Linked DNA regions of Homo sapiens. The protein of the gene in region 1 interacts with the protein of each later gene in a pairwise test. Each region holds a gene or a part of one and is shown in the gene's direction. Other genes may lie near its edges. The genes, in order: ANKRD46, HSD17B11, CD46, HSD17B13, LDLRAD1, CRB3 and MMGT1.

Region 1 (3,968 bases):
CCAGTACATCCACCTGTGCCCTTGCAAATGCTTGGTCCTACAGGTTCTTCCATAAATAACCTGACACCGAGACACATGACTCCAAAGATGACCTTACATTCTTCTTGAATGGGGGAAATAGACATCTTCATGCTCAACAGTCTTTTAGTCACAATCTTCAGGTCTTCATACGACTCACTAGTTGCTCTCCTGACCATTTATCCTAGAGAAATGAAGATTTACAGTCACATACAAACAAATGTTTGTAGAAGCTTTAACAATGGCCAAAAACTGGAGACACCAGATGTCCTTCAGTAGATGAACTGTTATATTGTGGTACACCCATGCCACGGAATACTACTATGGATAAAAAAGGGACAAACTATGGATACACACAGCTACCCTGGATGAATCTCCAGAGAATTATACTGAGTGAAAAGACCAATCCCAAAAGGTTCCTGTATGTGCTGTATGGCTCCATTTATACAACATTCTTGAAATGACAGAATTAAAGAAGTGGAAGACTAGGTAGTGTTTTCTAGGTGTTAAGGAGAGACTGGCATGGGAGGGAAGCAGGAATAGCTAAAAAGGGCAACATATGAGAGATTTTTCATGGTGATGGAAATGTTCTGTATCTTGACTATATCAATGTCAGTATCCTGGTTGTGATGTTGTACTATAGTTTGGCAAGATGTTACCATTGGGGGAAACTGGATAAAGGGTGCACAGGATCACTCTGTGTTATTTCTTACAACTGCATATGAATTTATAATTATCTCAAAAAGTTTAATTTAAAAAAGTCTTTAGTCCTCTTCACCCATTGGACAATCGTTAAATATGTGCTCTGATTTGTATTCACTTTATGACTTCTTAGGGAAGCTATTAACAGAGTCTAGTGAGTAAGGTCTAACTGAGGTCTTGGAAGTTTTCTTGGCAGGTTTCTAGTAATTTAGTCTAATGAATTTGTATAATATTATTATGAAATCATACAAATCTGTAATTTGTTCAAGTGTATTTTCTTATGGGCCATTGTAATATCCAAAGAAAATGGCAGGCTGGTTGCGGTGGCTCACGCCTGTAATCCCAGCACTTTGGGAGGCCAAGGTGGGTGGATCACCTGAGGTCAGGAGTTCAAGACCTGCCTAGCCAACATGGTGAAACCTCATCTCCACTAAAAATACAAAAATTACCCAGGCATGGTGGCACATGGCTGTAGTCCCAGCTACTGGGGAGGCTGAGGCAGGATAATTGCTTGAACGCGGAGGCCTCTGCAGGTGAGTCGAGATTGCACCACTGCACTCCGGCACCAGCGACAGAGTGAGACTCTGTCTCAAAAATAAAAAAAGAAAAAATTGCAGAAGCATTGTCCTTCTTGTGGATTTAAGAGAACATTAGGATTATTTGGGGGCATGACCATATGAACTATAATTCCATCTCTAGATGAAAAACAAAATTTTTTCTTTTTCCCTAATGTGAGCTCTACCACATCCAGAATAACCCACTTGCACCATTTTAATTAACATTGAAAATTAAAGCCAAATCATACATTAGAGACAGGCTCTAGTCGTTAAAGACTCAGCTCTAGAGGTCAGGACAAGAGAGGAAAAATATTAGGCTTTGGGTGAATACATAATATTTGTTTAAGGAAATCAAGGTAAGTGGCTCCGTGATATGAAGTTCGTCTAAATTGATACTGTGGTATCACAAAAGAAGTAGGAAATGAGGAGCGTAGATGTTTTGTGTGTTATCATGTCTTCGTGATATTTACTGACCCTCGTGTGGGACTGGTCCTCAGGTACAGTTTGTCAGCTATTGTCATCAGTTCCAGCCTAGCACTGATAGCCTTTATGATACAACCTGACTTACATATTGTAAATGGAGCTTTGTAAAATACCATTAATTATTTCCCTATATAAATTTGTTCACAGGGATTTGATAACAATGAACAAGGATGATCGGTAAAAAGTTAACCTGTATTTCACCCTGACCAGGAATTTGGGATTTGGACTTGATAGCATGGTATCTGGCACATTGCAGGCACACAGTGAATGTTTGTTTCATGAACTAATATTGCTATTTTTGTGGTCCTTACTGCCTGCCCATGACCCTGCTTCCACGGTCCTTCCAGAGAAGAGCTGAGTGGGCAGACAGGGTGCCCTCGTAGTCTCTCTCAGTGCAGAGAAGTGCAGCCTGGGTGGGGGAGCAGCGTCAGGCTATGTAAAGAAGACTACAGATAGACTTGGGCCAGCTTTTATTTCACACTGAAAAGACAAGGAAGGGAACAGATTTAAAGAGATTTAAGTACCAGCATTCAAGGTAGATTAGAAATACTTTTTCTTAAATGTATCCTGTTTGGTTTAAATATAAGTATTGGCTTTTTAAACTTATTTTTTCCCACTATGAATAGTATTTTATTTATAAAAATGCTTTTGTGGACTAATCTGGGATCTAGCCTCCATTTATAATGTGAAAAATATGCATTCTGAATTCCAAGTAATGACTGAGAGTGAATTTTCGGAGCCCAATTTGTTCTTTAGTGATGGCACATAATTTGATTCTTATTCTTTTATCTTTCTGTCTTGCTTTCTTGTTTGTGGGCCACAGAGCAGCTTCTATTAAGCCCTTCTTTGCTTCCTTTTCACTACTTTGTTACTCGTCAGATATTTTTCTGGCCTCACAAGTTGATGCCTCACCTACAGATTTTCTAGAGAATTTCTTCAGGCTCAGTAACCTGTCTGTATTTAATAGAACAGTGAGTTCTTTTTCTCACCACACTTCTATTATAACTTAATTTTCTATTTACTGTAGATCCTTGCCAGCACATTACAGAATATTTTTGTTGAACCTTCTTGAGAATTCAGAGAAACTGCTGAGTGACCACTGAACGAAAAGATCTAATCTTAAGGCTTACGTGAGTATTTACTACTGTGGACTTCCTCACAAGATGTGAAACCTTCAGTGAACTGCTTTAGGACAGATTCAGTTCTGTGATCAAGATGAAAAATAACTATCATTGGGCTTATTAAATGTGGGATTAAGTTTAGTAGTTGCTCAGGGACACAGAGAAACTGACAAAATACACACTTGTTCTCACCTGAAAAATAGACACAGAGACTTGTATTTCTTGCTGAGCCAACACTCAGAAGTATCCTAGTCTGCAAACCACAAGAATTCTTACTGTGTCTGAATCAAAAACACCAACTAGATTTTTTAAATTATCTATTTTTAAAAATTTAACCAAAACACATTACCTTTTGAAAAGCACTTGATATGTGGCATTTCATTTTGAAAAAGGTTTATGATAGCTTTTCCATTTTTATGATTCAATACTGTGCAAGCTTGTCCAACCTGCAGCCCAGAACAGCTTTGAATGTAGCCCAACACAAATTCATAAACTTTTAAAAAACATTCTGAGATTTTTTTTGCAATTTTTTAAAGCTTATCAGCTATCATTATGTATTTTATGTGTAGCCCAAGACAATTCTTCTTCCATTGTGACCCAGGGAAGCCGAAATGTTGGACACCCTTGCTGTAAGGGAAAATATTTAGATTACCCTCGCAAAAGAATTCTTGACTATTTTATTGAGTAAATTCTTCTCATTGAGTTTTTCTGTTTGTTGGTTTGGTTTGGTTTGGTTTGGTTTGTTTTTTTGAGACAGGCCTCACTTTGATGCCCAGGCTGGAGTGCTGTGGCTCAATCACAGCTCATCGCAACCTCGACCTCCCGGGCTCAAGTGATCCTCTCACCTCAGCGTCCCGAACAGGTGGGACGAAAGGCGCGCGCCACCATGCCTGGCTAATTTTAAAATATTTTATAGAGACAGGGTCTCTCGCTATGTTGCCCAGGCTAGTTTCGAACTCCTGGGCTTCAAGCTATCCTCCCATTTTGGCCTTCCAAAGTACTGGGATTACAGGTGTGAGCCACTGTGTCCAGCCAGATTTTTAAAAAGTCATCATATGTATCATAATCTGAAGTTTATTTTGATTTT
Region 2 (3,968 bases), on another chromosome or scaffold:
CTAGATTGTTTTTTTTTTTTTTGGTGTGACTACTAGAAAGATTAAAATTATATACATGGCTTGCGTTATATTTCTATGAGACAGTACCGGTGTAGAGATTTAAAGGGCTGGAGCTACAGATGATAAAATTTCCTGTATTTTGGCTTTTTACTCTGGGGAGTCAATGAAGGGTTTTGAGGGTAATTCCTATTGAAGAGGATCCTCCAGCTGCTGGGCTTAGGAGAGATGTAAGAGGAGAAAAGATGGAAGGAACAAGTAAAGTAAGAGACTACTGTGATAATCCAGGCATGAGATGAAATGATGGGGACTATTGAACCGGGTTGGCAGTAGCAGAGATTCGGAGTAATGGTCAGAAAAATTGAGGACAATGTAGTGAGTTTTTATTAGGTTAAATTAGTTTAATTTAAATAATCTATATTTTATTTTGAGATTATATCCTTCCTACTTTTTGTGGGTAAAAAATATATTTGTTAATGAAATTACATGATAACATATGAGGGTCATTTTGTTAGTTTTGAGTGTCCTTATTTGGCCAAAAGTTTGGCAATCCTAGTTCGGTATACACATCCCACTCTATTTTTCTTGCCGTTTTATAGATTTGAAATTATAGAAGGCTGAGAACCACTAAACCTGATTGGGAAAGGACAGGGTGGGGATTTGGAGCAGTCCAGGTAGCAGAAACTGGAGATGTGAAGCTCTTGGGCTGGTGAATACCTGGAGAATGAGGAAGAAAGTGGAGTGGTGTTTGATTGTTATGAGATCTAGCTGGCAGGGCAGGGAGGGGCCAAACGGAGGGCCCTTTCACCTAGAGTACAAAGACAATCTCTTAGATTCATCCATGTAATGAGGACAGCAGTGTCCACATGTACCATATGTTAATTTAGGGAAGAATTAATGGTGGTGTCAGCTTTGTTGTTCCACTAAGCCTGATAATGGGAATTATTCATTCTGCTTTGTGATAATCTATCACTTCTTGACTATTCTCATTCCCATGCTTGGTTAGAATAGTTTGTAGCCAGGCATGGTGGCATGCTTCAGTAGCCCCAGCTACTCAGGAGGCTGAAGCAGCAAGATTGCTTGAGGCCGGGAGTTCTGGACTGTGGTGCGCTCTGCATGTCTGCATAAGTTCAGAATCAATATGGTACCTTCTGGCGGTGGGCATGAAGGAGACCAAGTTGTCTAAGGAGGGGTGAACCAGCCAGGTTGGAAACGGAACAGGTCAGAGCTCTGGTGCTGTTCAGTAGTGGGATCATGCCTGTGAATAGCCACTGCACTCAACCTGCGCAACAGGGAGACCCTTTTTCCTAAAATACTAGTTTGGAAAGAAAAATTTACAGTAAGTGGTGAGCATATAATATATGCTCAAAGACTATTTGTTGAATGAAAAACTGAATTAATGAATAACTGAAAGAATAATGGGCATAATTTAAAAAGTTTTTCAATTTTTAGTAATCAAGGTAATGGGTGTAAAGGTCTTAGTTGTACCAATAGACAAACATATTTGAAAAAAGTTACCAAGGGAAATCTTGAAGAGTTATGAGCAATTGTACTGTGCTGCAAAACATTTTAAAGGAAGAATTCATTTTTTTTTTGAAGATCTGCTTATTTTTTATTTCTTACCAACTATCTACAGGGCACTGTCCGGAATTTTTTCTGGAGGAATTTAGAACTTAAATTTGTTGCACCGGCCGGGTGCAGTGGCTCACCCCTGTAATCCCAGCACTTTGGGAGGCCGAGATGGGAGGATCACTTGAGGCCAGGGGTTCAAGGCCAGCCTGGGCAACATGGTGAAACCCCGTTTCTCCTAAAAATATAAAAATTAGACGGGTGTGGTGGCGCATGCCTGTAATCCCAGCTACTAGGGAGGCTGAGGCAGGAGAATCACTTGAACCGGGAAGGCAGAGGCTACAGTGAGCTAAGATTGCACCATTGCACTCCAGGCTGGGTGACAGAGCGAGACTCCATCTCAGAAAAAAAAAAAAAAGTTTCACAATTCAGAAGGTGTGGAAAGCAGACCAACCTAAATGAGGAAGACCAAGGAAACAGGGCAAAAGTGAGACAGCGGATGTGAAAGAAGGGTATCTTTGCATCCATATAGTGGAGTGGTGGTTAGTTGCTTGGTGGTTACAGAAAGCCAACCAGTAATAAGCAAATCTCTGAAAACAGAATAAATGGGACATAAATTTTTATTGTAAAATTTGTTCATGTAAGGAAATATATTTGTTCAAAAAAGAGAAGACCCAATCAATACAATATACTTTTTTTTTTTTTTTTGAGATAGAGTCTCGCACTGTTGCCCGGACTGGTGTGCGGTGGCAAAATCTTGGCTTGCTGCAACCTCTGCCTCCCGGATTCAAGTGATTCTCCTGCCTCAGCCTCCCAAGTAGCTAGGATTACAGGTGCCCACCACCACACCCAGCTAATTTTTTATATTTTTAGTAGAGGCAGGGTTTCACTATATTGGCCAGGCTATTCCCAGAATCCTGACCTTGTGATCTGCCCACCTCAGCCTCCCAAAGTGCTGGGATTACAGGTGTAAGCCACCGCACCTGGCCAATACAATATACTTTTAAAAAACTTTTTAAAATATGGTAAAATATATGACATAACACACCATTTTAACCATTTCTGAGTGTACAGTTTAGTGGCATTAAGTACATTTACCTTATTATGCAGTGATCTCTTCTATTTCTCTCCAGAAATTTTTCATCTTCCCAAGATGAAAATCTGTACCCATTAAAACAATATATCTCCCCAGCCCTCTCTCTCCCCAGGTCCTGGCAACAACCATTCTATTTTCTGTCTCTATGAATATGATACTCTGGGTACTGCATATAAGTACATTCATATGGTATTTGTTTTTTGTGTCTGGCTTATTTCATTTGGCATAATGAAGGTTGTACGTGTAGCATGTGTCAGAAATTCATTTCTTTTTAAGGCTGAATAATATTCTATCCTATGTGTATACAACATTAATATACTTGTAAAAGGAAATGCCAAAAGCTGCTGGTTAAGTATAGGAGAGCAAAATAAAGTTTACCTGAGATGTTGATGTCCCTTGAGGAATAAGAGTTCCTCATGAGAGTATACTACAGTTTGTGAGGGAGATTTCAGTAAAAGAAAAATATTGTGGGAACCTGCCCCCAATATTTCAATGTAGCTTCTTTCTATTTTCCATAAGTGTCAGCCGGCTGAGAAATAAAGAGAGACAGTATAAAGAGAAATTTTACAACTGGGCCGCTGGGGGTGACATCACGTATCATGATGCCCCTGAGCCTCAAAACCAGCAAGTTTTTATTAAGAGTTTCAAAAGGGGTGGGGGTGTAAGAACAGGGAGTAGGTACAAAGATCACATGCTTCAAAGGGCAAAAAGCAGAACTACTGATAAGGGTCTATGTTCAGTGGTGCACATATTGTCTTGATAAACATCTTAAACAACAGAAAACAGGGTTCGAGAGCAGAGAACCGGTCTGACCACAGATTTACCAGGGCAAAGTTTTTCCCCACCCTAATAAGCCTGATAGTACTGCAGGAGACCAGGGCGTATCTCAGTCCTTACCTCAACCACATAGGACGGACATTCCCAGAGCAGCCATTTATAGACCTCCCCGTAGGAATGCATTCCTTTCCCAAGGTATTAATGTTAATATTCCTTGCTAGGAAAAGAATTTAGCAATATCTCTCCTACTTGCACATCCGTTTATAGGCTGTCTGCAAGAAGAAAAATATGGCTCTTTTTTGCCCGACCCCACAGGCAGTCAGACCTTATGGTTGTCTTCCCTTGTTCCCTAAAAATCACTGTTATTCTGTTCTTTTTCAAGGTGCACTGATTTCATATTGTTCAAACACACATGTTTTACAATCAATTTGTACAGTTAACACAATTATCACAGTGGTCCTGAGGTGACGTACATCCTCAGCTTATGAAGATAACAGGATTAAGAGATTACAGGCATAAGAAATTATAA
Region 3 (3,968 bases), on another chromosome or scaffold:
ACATCAAACTCAAATTTTAGTTAAAGAGCTTACAGTTTAACAAAAGACTTAGAATGAATCCTGGAACACAGACTAAGATTAGGTGCTTTGAAATTTCTGAAAGATAATATACATTCATTTTTACTGATTTTTAAAAACTGTTTTCCCCTATAGTTTTAGAAATAGCTTTGAAATCAAACCTAATAATTTTAAGACTTTTGGTACTCATGGTTTTATGATATATATTCCTTTTATACTGATCATCAGGTTTGGGCTAAGTCATAAAAGTACAAGCTTTACTCATAAGGAACTCAAACTTTTTTCATATTACTTGGTTATCTTTTGAAATACCCATAATCCCTTCACTTGAATCTTAAATCTTGTATTAATGGAACACGATATGCATATTTGATTTATCTATCAGTTGTATATTCTAAAAGTTACATATCTACAACGTGAGTACAAAATATTATCAATGGAATATTTTTACAAATCCATAAGGTTTGCGTAGAAACAAGTTCTAAAGAAAACAAAACAAAGTCGCATTCTGCTTATTTTCCTTCTTTGTTTAAAATATCACTGCATCAGAATTTTTAAAGGTTCATTAACAAGTATTAATCAAACTCTCTCTAGCTAGCAGTTAATGGTTTTTCTGTTGTTGTTTTTTGCTTTTTTGTGATGGAGTCTTGCTCTGTCACCCAGGCTGGAGTGCAATGGCGCAATCTTGGCTCGCTGCAACCTTGGCCTCCTGGGTTCAAGGGATTCTCTGCCTCAGCCTCACGAGTAGCTGGGATTACAGTCGTGCACCACCACCACCGGCTAATTTGTTGTACCTGTACTAGAGATGGGGTTTCACCATGTTGGTCAGGCTGGTCTTGAACTCCTGACCTCAGGTAATCCGCCCACCTCGGCCTCCCAAGGTGCTAGGATTACAGGCATGAGCCACCGCGCCCGGCCTTAATGGGTCTTTTAAAGCTCAACAGTTATCTGACTGTTACACTCCCAAATGAAAGGTTCAATAGCAGTAGTGAACTGAGATTCCAAAATTAATTTGTCCAGTGATTTTTTTTTAAAGCCCATATTTTACAGCATAGGGTCCAACTGACAGTTGCCATTATTAAAATTTTAAAATATTTTGGGAAGGTATGATATCTTTAGCCAATGCAACATAATTAATCCTGCAAATAGTAGCACAACTTGAGGAAAAATAGTCCAGAAAATGGTGTGAGAGACGAAACTCCTAATTGCCTTTGAACTTTAAAATATAAACTGCGTGGGAATCTTTTAGAATAGATGTTACCCTTTTTATGACAGGAACATACTCGATTGGAAATTCAGCATATGTAATGGCTGAATCCAAAGCTAGGCTCTCTTTATGGATCTATTATTTTGTAGTTCCATGTTATTTTGATAGCTGAACTGAATGTGAGGGTGGTTTATCTTTCTTCTTCAGAGTCTAGAGGAATGTTTCTCTGACTTTAATGTGCACATTAGTCACCTGGAAATCTGTTAAAGTACAGATTCTGATTCATTGGGTTTGGGGTGGAGCCTGAGACCCTGCCTGTCTAGTGAGCTCCCAGTGCTGATGCTGCTGCTGTGCCTGGGCTACACTGACCAGGGTGTTGCCCACTACTGATGTGCCTATATTGTTGAAGTCTGAAGAAACACTATGAAGCTTATTGGCAAATTTTTCTAATATTTAAGATAATTGAAGTTTTTAAGATTCCTCATCCATGTGTATCCTTAAAAAAAGGCTATGGGGTAATAAATAGTACTTGGCTTTTCTTACCTTCTTTAACTCTTAAAAAACAAAGATTTCCAGCCGGGCCTGGTGGCTCACGCCTGTAATCCCAGCACTTTGGGAGGCCGAGGCGGGCAGATCACGAGGTCAGGAGATCAAGACCATCCTGGCTAACACGGTGAAACCCCGTCTCTACTAAAAATACAAAAAAAAAAAAAAAAAAATAGTGGCGGGCGCCTGTAGTCCCAGCTACTCTGGGAGGCTGAGGCAGGAGAATGGCGTGAACCCCGGAGGCGGAGCTTGCAGTGAGCGAGATTGCGCCACTGCACTCCAGCCTGGGTGACGGAGTGAGACTCCATCTCAAAAACAAAAAACACAAAAAAACCCCAAAGATTTCCATTATTTTCTTTGCACTGTTTAATGTCCATAATCTTGTCCCCCCAGATTGGCTGTTGTGGCCTTAGAAACTTCTTATAAAGACTATAAAATGTCTGGAGGCACTTCTCCACTTCCGGGGGTAACTGGAAGCAGGCTAGCAGGCACAAATAATCTCAAATTGTTGTTAAAGCCTGGCACAAAATGTATTTCTTGTAAACTGGTATTTATGGTGATTTGGGAACGTAATTACTCTTCTGCAGCCTTCATCTCAAAATACAAAAATAGTGTAAGGAGTCATTTTAAGATCATCCAACATCATTTACATTACTTGATAAAAAGTGGGCAAAAGGTTAAAGTATTCTGCCACTTTTCTGTTTCATAGCTCTCAGCTGAGAACAGTATAGGATACCAGTGGGTCCGAAACAGGTCCCATCCACATGCTCCCTCCTTTTCCCTTCCCATTTCCTTTCTTTACTAATTCTTCTACCATACTTTTTAGTCTTGGAAGCCACAGCCCTGTCTTTGCTACTGCTTCAGTCCTGTATTGCATGGCATGACTGTGCTTCTGAACAACAGATGCCTTTTGTTTACATAAATATTTAAGTAATGGTTTTTTTTAAATGCATGATTATTTTTTAACTCTAGTTAAGCATCCCTGGATAAGTGACAGTTTGGCTAAGTTAGTGAAAGTTATTTACATAATTTATATATTTATTACCTGTGACAAATAGTTTTTCCTTTTTTCCATTAATGGTATTTATTATTTTGTATAACCTAAACTGACTTTTAATGTTACATTAATATTGACTGACCCAATTACTTTATTAAAAATAGTGGTCAGTTCAGGTAATTGGGGCATATAGTGACATGGGGCAAAAAAAGGATCAAATTAACTTAAATGTTTTTCTAGTTGGCCCTTAAATTCTTGAGCATTTAACCCTTCAAAAATTTTTGAGCAACTACAAAAATGTTTTGTAATTAGTTTAGAAAGCATCCTTACAAAATTAGATCCATCTCAGAAATATGAGACGCCATGTAATACAAAGTTTTGCAACGATGTCTCCTCAGGTTGAAAACAGATGTGCCACAGGAAGACACTTCTTAATGTAAAAGTCCAGAGACATCTGAAAATACATGATGTCATAAAGTTGATTTCTAGATAATATTACATGGATTTGATACATACTCAATGTATTCCCTCAAAATTGAGGGTGTTAGGCCGGGTTTGGTGGCTCACGCCTGTAATCCCAGCAACTTTGTGAGGCCGAGGCAGGCCGATGGCTTGAGCTCAGGAGTTTGAGATCAGCCTGGGCAACATAGTGAGATGCTGTGTCTTGAAAAAAAAAAAAAAAAAAAAAAAAAAAATCAAGAGTGCTAGAGACCGGTACCATTTCTCCCCAACAATCTGTTATTCCTTGAAAACATTTTGACATGAATCACTTCATGCAAAATGGCTTCAAAGATAAACATATTAAACAGGAATTTCCAGTCTGTTTATCTGCTGGATGATCTATATGACTTCAAAGTTCAAGTAGCTTCTAGCACAAAATTCATGTTTCCAGTCCTTCAGTGAGAATGAGAAAGTCTTAAGTTATGAACCTAATTCTCAGCTTTCCTGCTACTCTCTTACACTGGATTTTATCCCACTTGTTATGCTACTCGTTTCTTTTTGGTTTGAAGTCACTATTTTATTCAGCCGTTTTCTCTTCCTCTGTTCAGCACATACCTAACTGATGAGACCCACAGAGAAGTAAAATTTACTTCTCTCTGAGAAGGAGAGATGAGAGAAAGGTTTGCTTTTATCATTAAAAGGTATCTGTTTTCTGTTGTTTATTTTCAGATGTCCTTTCTTTTGAAAAATATTCAGTGG
Region 4 (4,702 bases), on another chromosome or scaffold:
CTGAAGGTCTATGTTGGGTAATGTGTGCTTTTTTAAAAAATATCTATTTTCTAGTTAAGGAAACTGTAGCATAGAGAAAATAAATAGGATTGCTAGAAATCACACACACGTAACATACAATTTACCATTTTAACTATTTTGTAATGTACAGATCAGTAGCATTAAGCACATTCACATTGTTGTATAACCATCACCACCATTCACCTGCGGAGCTTTCATCATCCTAACTGAAACTCCATACTCATTAAACAATAATTCCCCATTCCTTTTCTCCTCATCCCCTAGTAACCACCTTACTGCTTTCTGTCTCTCTCTGTGTATTTGACTACTCTAGGTACCTCATATAAATGGAGTCATACAATATTTATACTTTTGCATCTGGCTTATTTCACTTAGCATAATGTCATTAAGGTTCATCTATCTAGTAGTATGTGTCAGAATTTCCTTCCTTTCTAAGGCTGAGTAATATTCCATTGCATGTATATATCATATTTTGTTTATCTGTTGATGAACACTGGGGTTGTTCCCACTTCTTGGCTATTGGAAGTTGCTATAGGCTGCATGTGTTCCTTCAAAATTCATATTATGAAATCCTATCTCCCAGTGTGATGGTTTTAGGAAGTGAGACCTTTGGGAGGTGATTAGGTCATGAGAGCTCTGCCATGGGAATAATTGCCCTTATACAAGAGAACACGGAGGGTTTCCTTCCTCCTTCTGCCACTTGAGGTGACAGTGAAATGACAGCCATCTATCAACCAGGAAGCCAGCTCTTACCAGACAAAGAATATGCCAGCGCCTTGATCTTGGACTTCTTGTGAGAAATAAGTTTCTGGAATTTATAAACCACCTGGTCAATGGTAATTTGTTACAGCAGCAGACAAAGACAGAAGCCACCCCACTTTAAAGTTGAGATTCCCGACTCCTGGTCTAATGCTCTTTCCAGTATTATCACAAAGGGAACTGATGGTTCTGTATCCTAAAATCTCCCCCAAACTCAAGAGATTTTCAGGGAAATGGTCATCATGTGTAAAATAATTAGCCAGTTGAAATATTGATGCTGAGCTTTTGTGAATAAATGAATCAAATAGCTAAGCTGGGTTCATTCAGACTTTATCTAAGTTTCTTTAAGCTTATCTCTACATTCTCCTTTTTCATATTGAAAAAAGGTAACAATTTCCAGAAAGATACCAACAGATCATTAGCTGATGCAGTATCTCCAGAATTCTTTTTCTTTTTTTTTTAGACCAGGCCTTGTTCTGTTGCTTAGGCTGGAGCGCAGTGGCACAATCACAGCTCACTGCACCACGAACTCATGGACTGAAGCAATCCTCCTGCCTCAGCCTCCTGGGTAGCTGGGACTACAGACACATGCCACCATATCCAGCTAATTTTTTTCTATAGTTTTTTTTTTTTTTTTTGAGACAGGGTCTTACTATGTTGCCCAGACTGGTCTCGAACTCCTGGGCTCAAGCAATCCTCTGCCTCAGCCTCCCAAAGTGCTGGGATTACAGATGTGAGCCACTGCACCTGGCCCCTAGAATTGTTTCTAGAGGTGAAACTTCAAGGTGAAATATAGTACATAACTGCTTTTCAGATAAACAAGTCCAGAGAGCACACTCTCTTGTGCTCTTGGCATCACTTGGCATCACTTCATATTTGAGGTGTTTCAAACCCATTAGAACACGTGAACAAGGCCTGCTTCCAAAGCTGGCTTCCATCTGGTAGTCCCATTAACAACTGGGCACACCCCTTCCCTAGAGCTCTGTGTAGACAGTACCTCCTCCCTAGGACTACACAAGGACTGAACCAGAAGGAAGAGGACAGAGCAAAGCCATGAACATCATCCTAGAAATCCTTCTGCTTCTGATCACCATCATCTACTCCTACTTGGAGTCGTTGGTGAAGTTTTTCATTCCTCAGAGGAGAAAATCTGTGGCTGGGGAGATTGTTCTCATTACTGGAGCTGGGCATGGAATAGGCAGGCAGACTACTTATGAATTTGCAAAACGACAGAGCATATTGGTTCTGTGGGATATTAATAAGGTAATGTATACATCTTCCAACTTTTTAAAGTCACAGAGTAAGATATGTATTTTAAGAATTATTTGACTTACCATCTACTTATCTTTGTATTTTTGTTTTTCAAAGTTTGATAAATTCCCTGGTCCCTTAGTCTGTATATGTGTCAGGTTAGTTAGATGAAGGGAATGTAATTAAGAACTAAGCAGCGATTTTTATGACATGGTGTGCAGGTTGATAGAAAGACTCAGGAGCCAGTCTCCTTCCAAGCTGCTAAATGAGGCAAGTCACATATTATCTCTCAGCCTGTTTTCTTGGCTCTGAAGTGGGGATAATAACTTAGGGGATGGGCAAGAACGGGATCTGAAAATTACAGCTACAAACAAAAGTCAAACGAAGAACTTGCAACAGAAACCTTTAGTGCCTCCCCTCATGCACAAGCAACACAGTTCTAAAATATTTACTGTCTGACCCTTTACAGAAAATGTTTGCCAGTCCGTAGTCAAAAGGATTAAATAAGTAATATTTTCAGCACTTAGCATATGATAAACGATACGTGGCACATGATAAACAATAACTGTGTTAAATAAAATATGTGCGCAGTGAGTCAGGCTTTTCCTTGGACATTAGTATTTTTCCTGTGTTCTTACTTGTAAACACTACATTAACAACCCCAAATAAAACTGAAGGAACTGAAATCTTGTATCATTTTCTCTAAACTTGTAAATTCTGGTAAGGCCATGAAAATATATGCAGAGAAGTGTTTACAGGATTTTAGGATTGGAAAAATTGTGAAGTACTCCTTGAGAATCACATTTTCTGCAAATTACAGTGGTTTTAATTACCATTATATTATTACTTTCTCATGTTCTTTGCTGTCATGTTTAGTTGAAACCTAAAATGTCTCTTACACTTAGAGAACTAATTCTTTTCTGTTTTTTTTCTGAATAGTGAAGAATACTATACAAAAAAGCTACTACATTTTTATTTAACAGATATGAGCATTTATATAATAGAGGAGTTGATGTATATAAAAATGATTTGCCATCTTTTTGGTCTTTGAAGAAATTCGAATGAACTTTCTGGAAGATAGCAAGAATTTACAAATAGAGAAAATTGTTGCCTGCTGTTCTCAGGCATTTGTCCAAAAATATAAATAAGTATAAATCTATGAAAAGGGCTTGATGAAATCTAACCTTCAAATCTCTTTCCAGATGTGTATTTTTGGGGAAAGGGCTATATTTATTAAGTTTTTTTTAAATTTTAAAATTTCCAGAGACAAGAGAAAAGTAAATTAGAAGGAAGTCGTATTAAAAATGACTTAAGGGCGGGTGCAGTGGCTCACACCTGTAATCCCAGCACTTTGGGAGACGGAGGTGGGCAGATTGCTGGAGCCCAGGAGTTCAAGACCAGCCTGGGCAGCACAGCAAAACCCCCAACTCTACAAAAAATACAAAAATTAGCTGGGTGCGGGGGTGCACACCCGTAGTCCCAGCTACTCGGGAGGCTGAGGTGGGAGGATCGTTTCAGTTCAGGAAGCCAAGGCTGCAATGAGCTATGATGGCATCATTGCACTCCAAGCTGGGCAATAGAGCCAGGCTCTGTCTCAAAAAAAATAAAAAAAGACTTAAGAAAAATAGGTAACCCAACCTCAAAAATTCTCTTTGAATCATTAAATTTCATGGTTAAACATTTAAGCTACTGAATGATTCACTCTAAGGCTGTAATGTAACTCAGATCTCCTTTAGGCGAGGAAGATGCTGGCTGAGTTTTCATCATAACTGGCTCCTTTTGCCCTGTGAGATGAGAGACACAGTAGCAGTTTGGCTCTTATGCAATCTAAACTGTTGCGTTGGGAATACGGTTCAAAAAACACATTGGAGTTTAAGCTAAAGCAAGTGTTTTGCTAACAAAAAGACAAGGCATCACATTTTGCAATTGTCTAGCTCAGTTATAAAACAGAAGAATAGGCCGGACGCGGTGGCTCACGCCTGTAATCCCAGCACTTTGGGAGGCCGAGACGGGCGGATCACGAGGTCAGGAGATCGAGACCATCCTGGATAACACAGTGAAACCCCGTCTCTACTAAAAATACAAAAAAATTAGCCAGGCGTAGTGGCGGGCGCCTGTAGTCCCAGCTACTCGGGAGGCTGAGGCAGGAGAATGGTGTGAACCCGGGAGGCGGAGCTTGCAGTGAGCCGAGATGACGCCACTGCACTCCAGCCTGGGCGACAGAGCGAGACTCCGTCTCAAAAAAAAAAAAAAAAAAAAAACTGAAGAATAATTAATTCTTCAATCAAAACATCTGATGAATGCTCTGGTAACTTATGCTCTCTACTGACCTAGAAACAAATGAGAGAGTATGGTGTGGTTTGTGCAATCTGGCAGTGAGCAAGCTACCAACTAAATCAGTGAAAGACTCTCCTATTCTTTTTTTACTCTTCTGCAATCCCACAAAAGGCTATTTGAGGGGATACTGACTTTGAGACTGGGTCCTAACATCCATGTTTGGGGAGTTCAGGCTGCTGCTCCAGGGTTTAGCCTACAGTAGCGAAATACAAAGGACCCAGAGACCACTCATTCAAGGTTTGCCCTAAATAGCAGCAACACCACTGTCATCTCAATACACGAAGAATAGGGCTTTTCAGGTATCCTTGCCTCTTTGTCACAGAGAAGAGTTTAC
Region 5 (3,500 bases), on another chromosome or scaffold:
CACAGAGGGGTATTCAGAACGGCTTGCTGAATGAATGAGCGAATGAATGAATGGGAAGACCTGGCCCCAGACCTTAGACACACCTGAAGGTTCTCAGGAGAGAGGAGCCTGACCCCACAGGAGAGAGAGAGCCTGGAGAGGTGCAGTGGGTGGGGTGGGGGAGCTCATGGAGGGAGAGTCATTGCATCACAGACCCTCAGGACAAGAAGCAATCTCAAAAGCATCTAGTCCTTGCCCCAGCTCATCCCCAATCCCCTCTCTAGCAAGCCCAACCGAGGCCACCCAGCCTCTGCTTGCATCCCAGGGGATGCAAGGATTGGAAGGTTTTTCCATGGGAAGGTTTTCCTTGTCCCAGGCTTAGAGCTGCCTCCCAGAGTGGTTCCTCCCTGATTGGTTCCAACTCTGTCCTTCTGTCAACCCTGCCCCGATAGACCACACTTTAATTTCTGCCATGATGGTGGTGCTGCATGGATTTGAAGATTGCTCCCTTGCCCTCCATGAGGTTTCTCTTCTCTACGCCACATCCCCTTCTCCAGGTCACAGTCAGCCCCCTTGTGACCCAGTTCCTGGCCCTCCCCACTCCATCAATGCTCCACAGAATGAATATCAACTTCCCATGTCCCCGTCCCTGGACAGGCCTCAGAAACATCCTCAGCCCTTCTAGCTGGGTCTGGGCAGTCTAACGAACAGAATCTTGCTCCCTCCCTGCCCAAGGTTTTCTACCTCTAGTGATGTGGCCTGAGTTTGTGTGAATTTTTGATAGCCCTATCACACTGCTGCCTAACAGAACACACTTTCAAGAAAGGTGCTCTGACTCTGCCTTACAAGGTGTGTGAACCCTAGATCTTCCCCTGAGATCCGGGGCCCAACTGTAAGACTCCACATTTATTCCTGTGATGTTCCAGTTGGAAGAGGCTTCCTGGAGGTGATGGAACTTGAACCTGAACTTGAAAGAATGGTTTTGGATAGGTGTCAAGGAGGCTCTTTGTGGAGGGGGGCATAGTGTCAGCAGTGGTGTGGGGCAGGAACACACCAGAGCTGGGGAGGAACTGAGGAAGGGAGGGGCAGATCTCTGGGCCTCTGTCCAGCAACGGAGCTCTCCTCTCCCTCTGACTCCACCACCTCCCCAGGAAACCTTCTGCTTGCACCCTTCTGGGCTGGATGGGCACTGATCCTGAGTTTGGCCACTGCCAGGGTGGTCAATCCTCCTCCCGATAACCCTCAGACAGCTGTGGCCAGATGTGGACTTCTTCCTGCCTCCTCTGTACCTCTACAGGAGATGTGCCCCAGAGCCTCCCCCACTTCCTTGTGGCCCACTGTGGAGACCCGGCCTCCTGGATCTACTCAGACCAAAAATGTGATGGCACTAACAACTGCGGGGACTGTTCAGATGAACTGAGCCCAGGTAGGGGTCTGGGCACAGGCTGGGCTGGGGCTGGTGTCCAGGCAGCAGCCAGAGGGCAAAGGGTGAGCAGGGAATCTCTAGGGCTCCCCCTTGCATGCTTCCCTGCATCCTAGGAAGGAGTTTTCTACCCCTGCTTGAATACATCCTGTGATGGGGTACTCACTACCACTCCAAGTGACTTTTTCTGGAGGCTCATTCTTCTGCAGTGGGGAAGTCACCTTCAAAGGCACAGATGAGAAAACTGGGTCCCAGAAGGTGGTCATGCAAGGAGTACATACATGGCCCAGCTGGGATTTGAACCTGGGGTTCCCTTATCTCTGCACCTCCCAGTGACCCTGTGAGGAAAGCAGGGCAGGAATCACTGGCCCCAATTTGTATGTAAGTAAATGGAGGCTTTGAGAGGAGAAACTTAGTACAATGTGTGACAGGAAGGGAGCTCAGGTGTGAACCCAGGCCTCCTGATCCAAGTCCCGAGTCCTGTAGCTGCCCTAGAGTTTCCTCTCAATCTCTTCCCCAGTGGTCAATCAACAAACATGTTCTGAGCATTGGTGGGGTGCTCAGAACGCACCTGGTATCAGATTCAGGTGGGGGACATCAGGAATCAGGCATGTGTCCTACCCCCAGGACTCACATCATGCTGATGCCGAAAGGAGGTGCTGGGGACCTGGAGGAATCAAGGGAGATTTCTCAGAAGAGGTAGCATTCAAGAAGACCAAGAATAGACGGGTTTCAGTAGGTAGAGGCTGGGTGTGTGGGGAGGAATGCCGGAGGCCTGAGCAGAGGAGAGAAGGCTAGGAGCACCCTCAGGCAGTCATGGCAGGTGAGCATAGCTGGACTCAGGGTAAGGAAGGGCACCCATTCATATTGCAGTCTTTACCGTGTGCCTGGGACTTTGCCTGACATCCTTTGCTTGATAACAAGCTTGAGCACACTAGGAAACAGTTTCAGACAGGGTGAGGGAGGTCACATAGCCTGTGAGCTGTGGAGTCTAGATTCTCTCTGCCGCAGGAAAACTAGGAACACACTCAACTCACGTCAGATGGGTTGGGGCCATGGGGAGCTACGGCAGGTTTCAGAACTAGGGAGTGCCCTGGTGCACAGAGCGTTCCAGGACACAGCAACTGCTCTCCTGCTGGCTCTTGTCTCTGCAGTAACTGTGTGCCCACCCTGCGGCCCTGGGTGGTGGCGCTGTCCTTCAACCTTCTTCAAGTACTGCGACTGTATACCGAGGCATCTCTGCCGCGACCATGTACAGCACTGCTCCGACTGGTCCGATGAGTATGCCTGTCCCGGACCCTGAGTGGGCCACTCAGGCCAGCATGGAAGGCTGGCTGGAATGGCACTGATAACCCTTCACATGAAAATCAAATCCTAGCGCACAAGGGCAGGAAGCAGCCTTTGAAATGGGATCTACACATCATTTCTGAATAGGAATTTTCTCTCCTCCTTTCAAGTTGTTCAGCCTCTGCTTGAATGCTTCCAATGACCAGGAGCTCATTACCATGTTAGGTGGCTTCTAACAAAGATGATGTGGTGGAACCCCGTCTCTACCAAAAATACAAAAATTAGCCAGGCATGGCGGTGCACACCTATAGTCCCAGCTACTAGGGAGGCTGAGGTGGGAGGACTGTGTGAACCCAGGAGGTCAAGGCTGCAGTGAGCTGTGACCACACCACTGCACTCCAGCCTGAGCAACACAGTGAGACCCTGTCTCAAAAAAAAAATGAAACAAAACACAAACACAAACAAAGACGAAGGGAATCTGCTTCCATGATTTCATGCCTGTCTCTGGGGCCACACAGAGGAAATCTGCTAACTGCTCCAAGGCATACTTGTGGATCCTAATCTCGTCATCCCTTAGAGTGATGACATGTCTGGGGCTTAAATGACAAGCCGAGTTTAGCCTTCATGGATGGCACATACGTGAAACATATGCCACTTCCTACCCCTTTGGTACCTAAGGCAGATATACTGGGCTTGGATGCAACTTTAGCATCTTCCCCAGTTTAGTTAACCCAGCAGGCTCTACTGATTTAACCAAGTGACACAGCACATGAAACAGGATATCTGGCATCCTACCAGTGGGAAGCCACCC
Region 6 (4,406 bases), on another chromosome or scaffold:
GCTAGAGTGCAGTGGCGTGATCTCGGCTCACTGCAACCTCCGCCTCCAGGGTTCAAGCGATTCTCCTGCCTCAGCCTCCCAAGTAGCTAGGATTACAGGCGCCCACCACTACGCTAGCTAATTTTTGATTATTTTTTAGTAGAGACGGGGATTTCACCATCTTGGCTAGGCTGGTCTCGAACTCGTGACCTCGTGATCCACCTGCCTCGGCCTCCCAAAGTGCTAGGATTACAGGCGTGGGCCACCATGCCCAGCCTTGGCTATATTTCGTATAGCTGTGATTCAATGCAGATTTTTTTTTTTTTTTATGAGATGGAGTTTCACTCTTGTCACCCAGGGTGGAGTGCAATGGTGCAATCTCGGCTCACTGCAATCTCTGTCTCCTGAGTTCAAGCAATTCTCCTGCCTCAGCGCCCCCCGAGTAGCTGAGATTACAGGCACCTGCCACCACACCCGGCTAATTTTTGTATTTTTAGTAGAGACAAGGTTTCACCATGTTGGGCAGGCTGGTCTGGTTTCGAACTCCTGACGTCAGGTGATCCTCCTGCCTAGGCCTCCCAAAGTACTGGGATTACAGGCGTGAGCCGCCGCACCCGGCCATCTGTTTTCTGTATGTTCTTATATGTGAACACCTGTGCAGTTGTCTTCTGTACAGGTTTGGTTCCACACAGGTGTTTACCATACAGCTGTTTTTTTGTTTTTAAAATTTTTTTAGAGACAGGGTCTCACTTTGTCACCCAGGCTGGAGTACAGTGGTACAATCATAGCTCACTCACTGTTACCTCCACTCCTGGGCCCAATCGATCCTCCCACCTCAGCCTCCCAAGTAGCTGGGGCTACAGGTGCGTGCCATCACATCTGGCTAATTTTCTTATTTTTTGTAAATATGGGGCCTCCGTCTGTGGGCCAGGCTGATCTCGAACTCCTGGCCTCAAGTGATTCTCTTACTTCGGCCTTTCAAAGCGCTGGGATTACAGGATCACGCCACCGCCCCCGGCTTATTTTCTTCTTTTTATTTATTTGTTTATTTATTTATTTATTTTTTGTAGAGAATGAGGCCTCGCTGTGTTGCCCAGGCTGGTCTCGGACTCCTGGCCTCAAGCAATCCTCTTGCCTCGGCCTCTCAAAGTGTTGGGATTACAGGCGTGAGCCATTGCGCCTGGGCAGGTATTTTTTCTCATTAAGCGCTCCCCATCCAAGTCTGCCCTAGGCAGGAGTGCCTAGTGCACGGGTACATACATACCCCGTGCGTCTCCACACCTGTGCGCTCCCACAGATATGCTCGCAATGCAGGTGTAAGGTCCCCCTCACACCTGCGCGCTTCCGCGGTCTCCCTCCCCGCATCCCCATTAAGGGACTGGGGTCCCGTTACAGGTGCGCCCACAGCGCGGCCCCGCCCCCTTCTTGACTCCGCCCTCTCAGCGAGGCTCAGGTGCACAAGCCGGAAGTGCGCTCTCCCAGGTGAGTGACTAAACTTTCCGGGTCACGTGACAGGGCGGAGCCGGTGGGGTCGGACCCACAGAACGACCGACGGACCGAGGGTTCGAGGGAGGGACACGGACCAGGAACCTGAGCTAGGTCAAAGACGCCCGGGCCAGGTAGGAAGGCAGGACGCACCGCTAGGCCTGCCCCCTCGCCCGTCCACCCTGCCCGTCCCGTCCCGTCCCGTCCCGTCCCCTTCCTTTCCCCAGCCCAGGAACGCGCTCCTGGGAGTTAATCTTTAATCGCTGACCTCTGGCGGCTGGGGCGGGGCGGGACTCATGGGTGCCCTGGCGCCAGTTGTCTCTCCTGTGGGCCTGCGCCGGGGTCCCCACCCCGATCCCAACGCCTGGGCCTCTCCTTCTCCTGTCCCCAGGTGCCCCGTCGCAGGTGCCCCTGGCCGGAGATGCGGTAGGAGGGGCGAGCGCGAGAAGCCCCTTCCTCGGCGCTGCCAACCCGCCACCCAGCCCATGGCGAACCCCGGGCTGGGGCTGCTTCTGGCGCTGGGCCTGCCGTTCCTGCTGGCCCGCTGGGGCCGAGCCTGGGGGCAAAGTAGGTACCAGCTGAGAGCGCTGGGGGGGAGGGGTCTGGATTCCTGGATCTCTGCTGGGGACGTGGCTTAGAAGCGCTGGGTATCTGGGGCGCAGAGAGGGTCAAGAATTGGGGAGCGGGGAAGAAATACCTTGGGGAGGGGTCTACAGGGTTAGGGCTCGGGGGGATTAAGATTTCTAGTTTCTTCCTTGGACACTGGGAGTTGGTCTAGGAGACCTGAGTTCCCCAGCGAGGTGGAATTGTGTGTTGGAGTGGGGGCTCCTAAGTAGGACTTGGGGGGAGGTAAGGGCTGCGTACCTGAGTCTTGGTATAGTGCAGGTGTTTTTGGGTGAACTGGGAGCTGGGAGGAGGCCTGCCGAGCCGGGTCGACCTGGTTGGCTGAAGGTGTAGACCCCAGCCATTCAGTCTTAGATTTGTTTTGGGAGCCTGTGGGGAGGTGTGAGTCAGACACTCCAGGGAAAAGCTAGGCCCGCCCAGATCCTTAAGGGCCCAGGGCCGAGAGGTGAGTAGGGGAGGGGTGGACTTCTGGACACCCTACTGGGCTCTGCGGGACTGGGTCGGGGGGGTGTCCTGGGGAGCAAACACCCAAGGGAGAGGTCTTACCTGCAAGACACCCAACCATCTCTGTGCGAATGAAAGGCAGAGTTTGAATTGGGACCTGCTAGGGGGAGGTGAAGGGGAATGCCCAAAGCAGGTGCAGATGGGCGGGGATGGGAGAGAAAGATGGAGACTGAGTTATTCTCTGCCTTCACCCTCCACAGTACAGACCACTTCTGCAAATGAGAATAGCACTGTTTTGCCTTCATCCACCAGCTCCAGCTCCGATGGCAACCTGGTGAGTTGGAGGTATATGTGGGAAGATGGCAGCAAGGATGTTATCTAGGGGTCACACATATAGCATGTAGAGAGGACTAGACACCCCCTCCCCCCAGAGGTGGCAGGTCAGGGTGGCTTTGGAGAGCTCTAAGTAGGAGAGACCTGAAGTCTTAGACCAAGAAGACTAGGACACCCTGGAGGGAGTGGGCAGGAATACTGTAGCTGTCAGATGTGTGGGCTCAGGAATTCCATATGCCTCTCAGGTGGGTGGGGGAGCAAGGAGCTCAGACTTGGTAGATGTGATGAAAGCAGGAGTCCCGGCCGGGCGCGGTGGCTCACGCCTGTAATCCTAACACCTTGGGAGGCCGAGGCAGGAAAATCATGAGGTCAGGAGTTTGAAACCAGCACGGCCAACATGGTGAAACCCTGTCTCTACTAAAAATACAAAAAATTAGCCAGGCGGGGTGGCACACACCTGTAATCCCAGCTACTTGGGAGGCTGAGGCAGGGGGAATTGCTTGAGCCCAGAAGGCGGAGGTTGCAGTGAGCCGAGATTGTGACACTGCACTCCAGCCTGGGCAACAGAGCAAGACTCGGTCTCAAAAAAAAAAGCCGGAGTCCCAGACATGGCAGGTGCTTGCGAGGGGTGTCCCGGACATGGCAGGTGGTGGGGAGCCTTCGCACCCCAGACAAGGTAGGTAGGGATCCAGGAAGCCCCACTGTGGGGATCAGATCACCAAAAGTGGCAGATGTGTGTATGTGTGTGTGTGTGTTGTGGGGTAGGGGGTGATGAGGGGGATGCCATTCAGGTGGAGGTGGACAGGCTACCCAGGCTCAGGTGATTCACACCTGTCCCCTCTCTGCAGCGTCCAGAAGCCATCACTGCTATCATCGTGGTCTTCTCCCTCTTGGCTGCCTTGCTCCTGGCTGTGGGGCTGGCACTGTTGGTGCGGAAGCTTCGGGAGAAGCGGCAGACGGAGGGCACCTACCGGCCCAGTAGCGAGGAGCAGGTGGGTGCCCGCGTGCCACCGACCCCCAACCTCAAGTTGCCGCCGGAAGAGCGGCTCATCTGAACGCTGGGGCCTGCTGCAGCCACCAACACTGCCCAGGACTGCGGGTTGCTGGCTTGTACACCGCAGCTGCCACCGAGACACCAGCCTCTGATGGCTCAGGAGGACTTGTGGGGAGAGGCTGGGGGCACCCATGTGGTGGGCTCTGTGCAGCATGTTGCCTCTGCTTGGCTGTGCCTGCAGCTCAGGGTGCTGGGGCTCGGGACCCACCCCCCTGCTTGCGGAACCAACTTTTCTCTGTGTGTCCAGCAGGCCCCACAACCCCCTCTCCTTTCTTTCAGTTCTCCCATGCAGCCGAGGCCCGGGCCCCTCAGGACTCCAAGGAGACGGTGCAGGGCTGCCTGCCCATCTAGGTCCCCTCTCCTGCATCTGTCTCCCTTCATTGCTGTGTGACCTTGGGGAAAGGCAGTGCCCTCTCTGGGCAGTCAGATCCACCCAGTGCTTAATAGCAGGGAAGAAGGTACTTCAAAGACTCTGCCCCTGAGGTCA
Region 7 (3,968 bases), on another chromosome or scaffold:
TCCACAGAATTTATAGATTGTATTGTGTCTGAATCCCAGTCATTTCAAGTGAGCATTGTCTCCCTGATGGTGGCCCTGAGAGGACTACCTGTTAGAGGCAATGAAGAGGTAGAGAGAAAATTGTAAATATTTATAATAATGTTTGTGTTATTTAGTATTATCAATCTTTATACTCACAGATAGTTCTTCAGACACTTCTGGCCTTTGCAGTTACCTGTTACGGTATAGTTCATATTGCAGGAGAGTTTAAAGACATGGATGCCACTTCAGAACTGAAAAATAAGTAAGTCTTTCTCTTTTCATAGGCATTGCATTTCATAGAGGTTTGCTGTATTCACATAATTTTAAAAAGTATGTTTTCTGATACATAAAAGTTGGTTTTGTTTCTGCATTTTGATTACACAGTTTGTATGAATAATGAGGTAAAAACATTGAGGCGGTATTTGATACTGTAAGAAAATGGAAGATGAATGCCAGATTATTCACAGTAGAATCAAAAAAATACGTTGCTTAAAATTATTGGTTGGTTGTATGGATGAAAATAGATATATAGAAAAATAATGCCTCAGAATTTTTAACCTTTCTCCTTCCATTCCTTCCTTGCTCCCTTTCTTCCCCCCTCCCTTCCCCCTTTCACTCCTTCCATCCCTCTCTTCCTACCATCCTCTTTCTATCCTCTTGTCCCAGCTTAGTCTTTGGAAGAGTAAGTGGTTTTCGGTTTCCCCTCTCACTTGAACCTAGTATGTGAGATAAGCTCTGCTCCCAGGCCCTTTTCTACTACTGGATTAAAAGTATATTTGTTATTCTGCTTTCTTTTTTTTCTCCTGGACTACTTCTAAGCTATTTTCATGAGCTATGTTTGCTTTTATTTTTCATATTTTTACTTTCCTAAAATCATCCTTTAGCTTTGTTCAGTTCCATCTCTGGACTTTACCCACCTTCTTGATCCTGGACATGATGCCCCTTTACAATATTTTCTTAGAAGGAGTCACAGTGAACATTTATGTGTTAGAGGAAAGTCATATCCCCCTTTTAGTTCATTATGTACATTTTATTTATTTTTATTTCTTTCTTTCTTTATGGAGACAGAGTCTCTATCAACCAGGCTGGAGTGCAGTGGCATGATTTTGGCTCACTGCAACCTCTGCCTCCTAAGTTCAAGTGATTCTCCTGCCTCAGCCTCCTGAGTAGCTGGGATTAACAGGCACCTGCCGCCATGCCCGGCTAATTTTTGTATTTTTAGTAGAGACGGGGTTTCACCATGTTGGCCAGGATGGTCTCGAACTCCTGACCTGAAGTGATCCACCCGCCTTGGGTTCCCAAAGTTCTGGGATTACAGATGTGAGCCAACGTGCCCCACCCAATATGTACATTTTAAGGAGTTACATATCAGGCCTCTTTTTTGTATGGGAGTATGCTTGGATGTTTAGGTGGGCTGAGATTTGAGTTTTTGTCAAAGGAAGAGTTCTCCTATCCTTTCCAGGAAAATAATATTGAAAAACAAAAACCATAAAGGCCACACACCAAGGTGTTTGTGAACTCTTTTAGACTACATATCTCTCACTGGAAAAGTAGAAAGGATACTTTACTGTCATCACTGCTTGCTCTTACAAAGAGTCTACCAAGAATCACAGGCAAGGGGCCAGGAAAGAAAGAAGTAAAACAATGTCATTAAGTAGGTGGTAGAAAAATATGTGTTTGGACAATAGCAGGTACAGAGGGCCAAAAGGAATTTTTTGTTGTGCTTGAAAGATTCTTGGAAAACAGATCTGTGAAACGATCATATGGCTTGAATAATGAGGGCCAAATGAGAATAATCAAAGCTGTAATCTATGTGCTGCTTTTTTAAAAAGACTATTCGACATGCGTTACTGTTAGATTTACAGGGGAGATTAATAGTTGAGCTAGTATTTGTGTTGTTATTCATAGGCATTCTGGAAGGAATGGCTGGATAAAAAAAAATATTAGAAGCCGGGCATCATGGCTCATACCTGTAATCTCAGCTCTTTGGGAGGCTGAGGTAGGAGAATTGCTTGATCCTAGGAGTCTGAGACCACCTGGGCAACATTGGGAGACCCTGTCTCTACAAAAAATAATAATAAAAGAAAGCCATGTGTGGTGGTGCGCATCTGTAGTGCCAGCACTTGGGGGGCTGAGATGAGAGGGTCGCTTGAGTCCAGGAGTTTGAGGCTGCAGTGAGCTATGATTGTGCTACTGCACTCCAGCCTGGGCAACAGAATGAGACCCTATCTCTATTTTTTTTAAAAAGAAGAAATTTGAGAGCTATATGCTGCTTTTCCAGGTTTCTTATTTTCTTTATATAGGAAAAGAGATACAGTATAATTATTATTTACAGTCTGATTTCATGTATTAATACTTGTTAAAAAATATAACCCATAGTAAATTGATAATTCGTTAGAAGCCTACTTATTTTCAAGTAGGGTTTTATAAAGGTTTATCTAAAATTGATGCTTTTTTCTTCTTTCAAGGACATTTGATACGTTAAGGAATCACCCATCCTTTTATGTATTTAATCATCGTGGTCGAGTACTTTTCCGGCCTTCGGATACAGCAAATTCTTCAAACCAAGATGCATTGTCCTCTAACACATCATTGAAGTTACGAAAACTCGAATCACTGCGTCGTTAAGATTTTTACAAATTATAATAATAGGACAGGACACAGAGCTGGAATATTGGAGTTTGGGGTATAAAACACTCCTCCCTGCCCCCATTAGTATTTATATTGATCTTTCAGACCTACTTTAGTAAAAAAAACCATGGCCCTTGTTTATATACTGTTAATCCAATCATTAATGCAGTGTAAGTTATATGTGAAATGAGTCTTTGGTATTTCATATAGGAATTATTTTTTTTTTCATTTAAAACAAATCCACATCTTTTGTAAAAGCCACTGTTTTGAACACATTTCCTTGAAAAATGTTGGTGGTTTTTGTGATTATTTATTTTTTTAGATTTCTTTTCTTTTGCACTACAATTTTTGGAATCCTTTTGGAAATACTGTGTGACTGCTGTGTTTTGCAGCATGAATTATAGTAAAATGGTCTTCAATTCTTAACAAATGGACTTCCCTGATGAGACCAAAATGGTGATTTAACAGTTTTTCTTGTGTCCCCTAAAAAGTGGCTCTGCTTCAGAAGTACTTGCCAGTTTTTAATTTATTTGTGACTTTTCACCCTACCCTGCTCCCATATACCTTCTACCATCAGCTGTCTTGTTTCATCATTTCTCTGAGATTCTGTGTGCAGTGAGCAATTTTTGTGTCAGAAATTCTTTGTCAGAACAAATATATGTAACAGGCTCAACTTACTGTAAAGCTACTTGTGTTCTCTTCATTTGTCTGTAAAAATTTCCCTAATTGATTATATAGTGTAAGAATAGTTGAAGACTAGTTGAAGACCTTTTGTGATTTCATTATCATGCCTATGCAGAAGAAAAATCATTGAGGAAAATTGTCATTAGCCAGTTTAACTGATTCAAACTCTGTTTATTTCATACTAAACTAGTGAATAAGTGAAATAAAGGAAACTCGTCATTAATCTAAAGACAGAGTTCAAAGGAATTGGGCCAAATATATTCTCAGTATTTGGAACTAATGTTTTTAAGGTTTTTAGGAAAATCAGGTCATTTAAGAAATTGTTTTGTAGTTTCTGGTTTATAGCAGTCTTCAAGTTTTCCATCTTCACTGTATGTTGCTGAAAGTGAGGATGAGGATACAGAGTTGATATTTTTAGAAACAGTAATTTTACTTTTAAGGAAATTGGCTAGCTCTTTGAGCTAGAGAGCTGTAGGAAGCTCAACATTTCTTTGTAGAGAACGTTGCTTTTTTTGGATTGTACAGGTATAAAAACATTGCTTTTGTTGAATTGTATAGGTGTAAAAAGGGAATAACTGTATGCAGGTTTGAAAAGGAAATGTGCTTTAGGCATGAGTCATAAGATGCCATTG

What was found.
Region 2: the proteins of ANKRD46 (region 1) and HSD17B11 interact in binary tests that used the Homo sapiens proteins (3 or more experiments, as listed by UniProt).
Region 3: the proteins of ANKRD46 (region 1) and CD46 interact in binary tests that used the Homo sapiens proteins (3 or more experiments, as listed by UniProt).
Region 4: the proteins of ANKRD46 (region 1) and HSD17B13 interact in binary tests that used the Homo sapiens proteins (3 or more experiments, as listed by UniProt).
Region 5: the proteins of ANKRD46 (region 1) and LDLRAD1 interact in binary tests that used the Homo sapiens proteins (3 or more experiments, as listed by UniProt).
Region 6: the proteins of ANKRD46 (region 1) and CRB3 interact in binary tests that used the Homo sapiens proteins (3 or more experiments, as listed by UniProt).
Region 7: the proteins of ANKRD46 (region 1) and MMGT1 interact in binary tests that used the Homo sapiens proteins (3 or more experiments, as listed by UniProt).

Annotation. Positions count from the first base shown.
Region 1 is NC_000008.11:100,532,131-100,536,098, reverse strand, and holds part of ANKRD46 (ankyrin repeat domain-containing protein 46), read left to right. Parts: intron 1-2,787; 5' UTR 2,788-2,890; intron 2,891-3,638; exon of another isoform or gene 3,639-3,743; intron 3,744-3,968.
Region 2 is NC_000004.12:87,384,221-87,388,188, reverse strand, and holds part of HSD17B11 (estradiol 17-beta-dehydrogenase 11 precursor), read left to right. Parts: intron 1-3,968. UniProt on the Homo sapiens protein: Can convert androstan-3-alpha,17-beta-diol (3-alpha-diol) to androsterone in vitro, suggesting that it may participate in androgen metabolism during steroidogenesis.
Region 3 is NC_000001.11:207,786,436-207,790,403, forward strand, and holds part of CD46 (membrane cofactor protein isoform 3 precursor), read left to right. Parts: intron 1-3,817; coding exon 3,818-3,869; 3' UTR 3,870-3,910; exon of another isoform or gene 3,911-3,926; intron 3,927-3,968. UniProt on the Homo sapiens protein: Acts as a cofactor for complement factor I, a serine protease which protects autologous cells against complement-mediated injury by cleaving C3b and C4b deposited on host tissue.
Region 4 is NC_000004.12:87,319,973-87,324,674, reverse strand, and holds the start of HSD17B13 (17-beta-hydroxysteroid dehydrogenase 13 isoform A precursor), read left to right. Parts: upstream 1-1,792; 5' UTR 1,793-1,833; coding exon 1,834-2,043; intron 2,044-4,702. UniProt on the Homo sapiens protein: Plays a pivotal role in hepatic lipid metabolism. In vitro, it catalyzes the oxidation of a variety of lipid substrates, including 17beta-estradiol, retinol, retinal, and leukotriene B4.
Region 5 is NC_000001.11:54,008,187-54,011,686, reverse strand, and holds part of LDLRAD1 (low-density lipoprotein receptor class A domain-containing protein 1), read left to right. Parts: intron 1-1,276; coding exon 1,277-1,405; intron 1,406-2,556; coding exon 2,557-2,705; 3' UTR 2,706-3,500.
Region 6 is NC_000019.10:6,462,753-6,467,158, forward strand, and holds the start of CRB3 (protein crumbs homolog 3 isoform a precursor), read left to right. Parts: upstream 1-1,518; 5' UTR 1,519-1,598; intron 1,599-1,855; 5' UTR 1,856-1,949; coding exon 1,950-2,031; intron 2,032-2,792; coding exon 2,793-2,866; intron 2,867-3,713; coding exon 3,714-3,920; 3' UTR 3,921-4,198; coding exon of another isoform or gene 4,199-4,270; 3' UTR 4,271-4,406. UniProt on the Homo sapiens protein: Involved in the establishment of cell polarity in mammalian epithelial cells. Regulates the morphogenesis of tight junctions.
Region 7 is NC_000023.11:135,963,705-135,967,672, reverse strand, and holds part of MMGT1 (ER membrane protein complex subunit 5), read left to right. Parts: intron 1-179; coding exon 180-283; intron 284-2,489; coding exon 2,490-2,649; 3' UTR 2,650-3,968. UniProt on the Homo sapiens protein: Part of the endoplasmic reticulum membrane protein complex (EMC) that enables the energy-independent insertion into endoplasmic reticulum membranes of newly synthesized membrane proteins.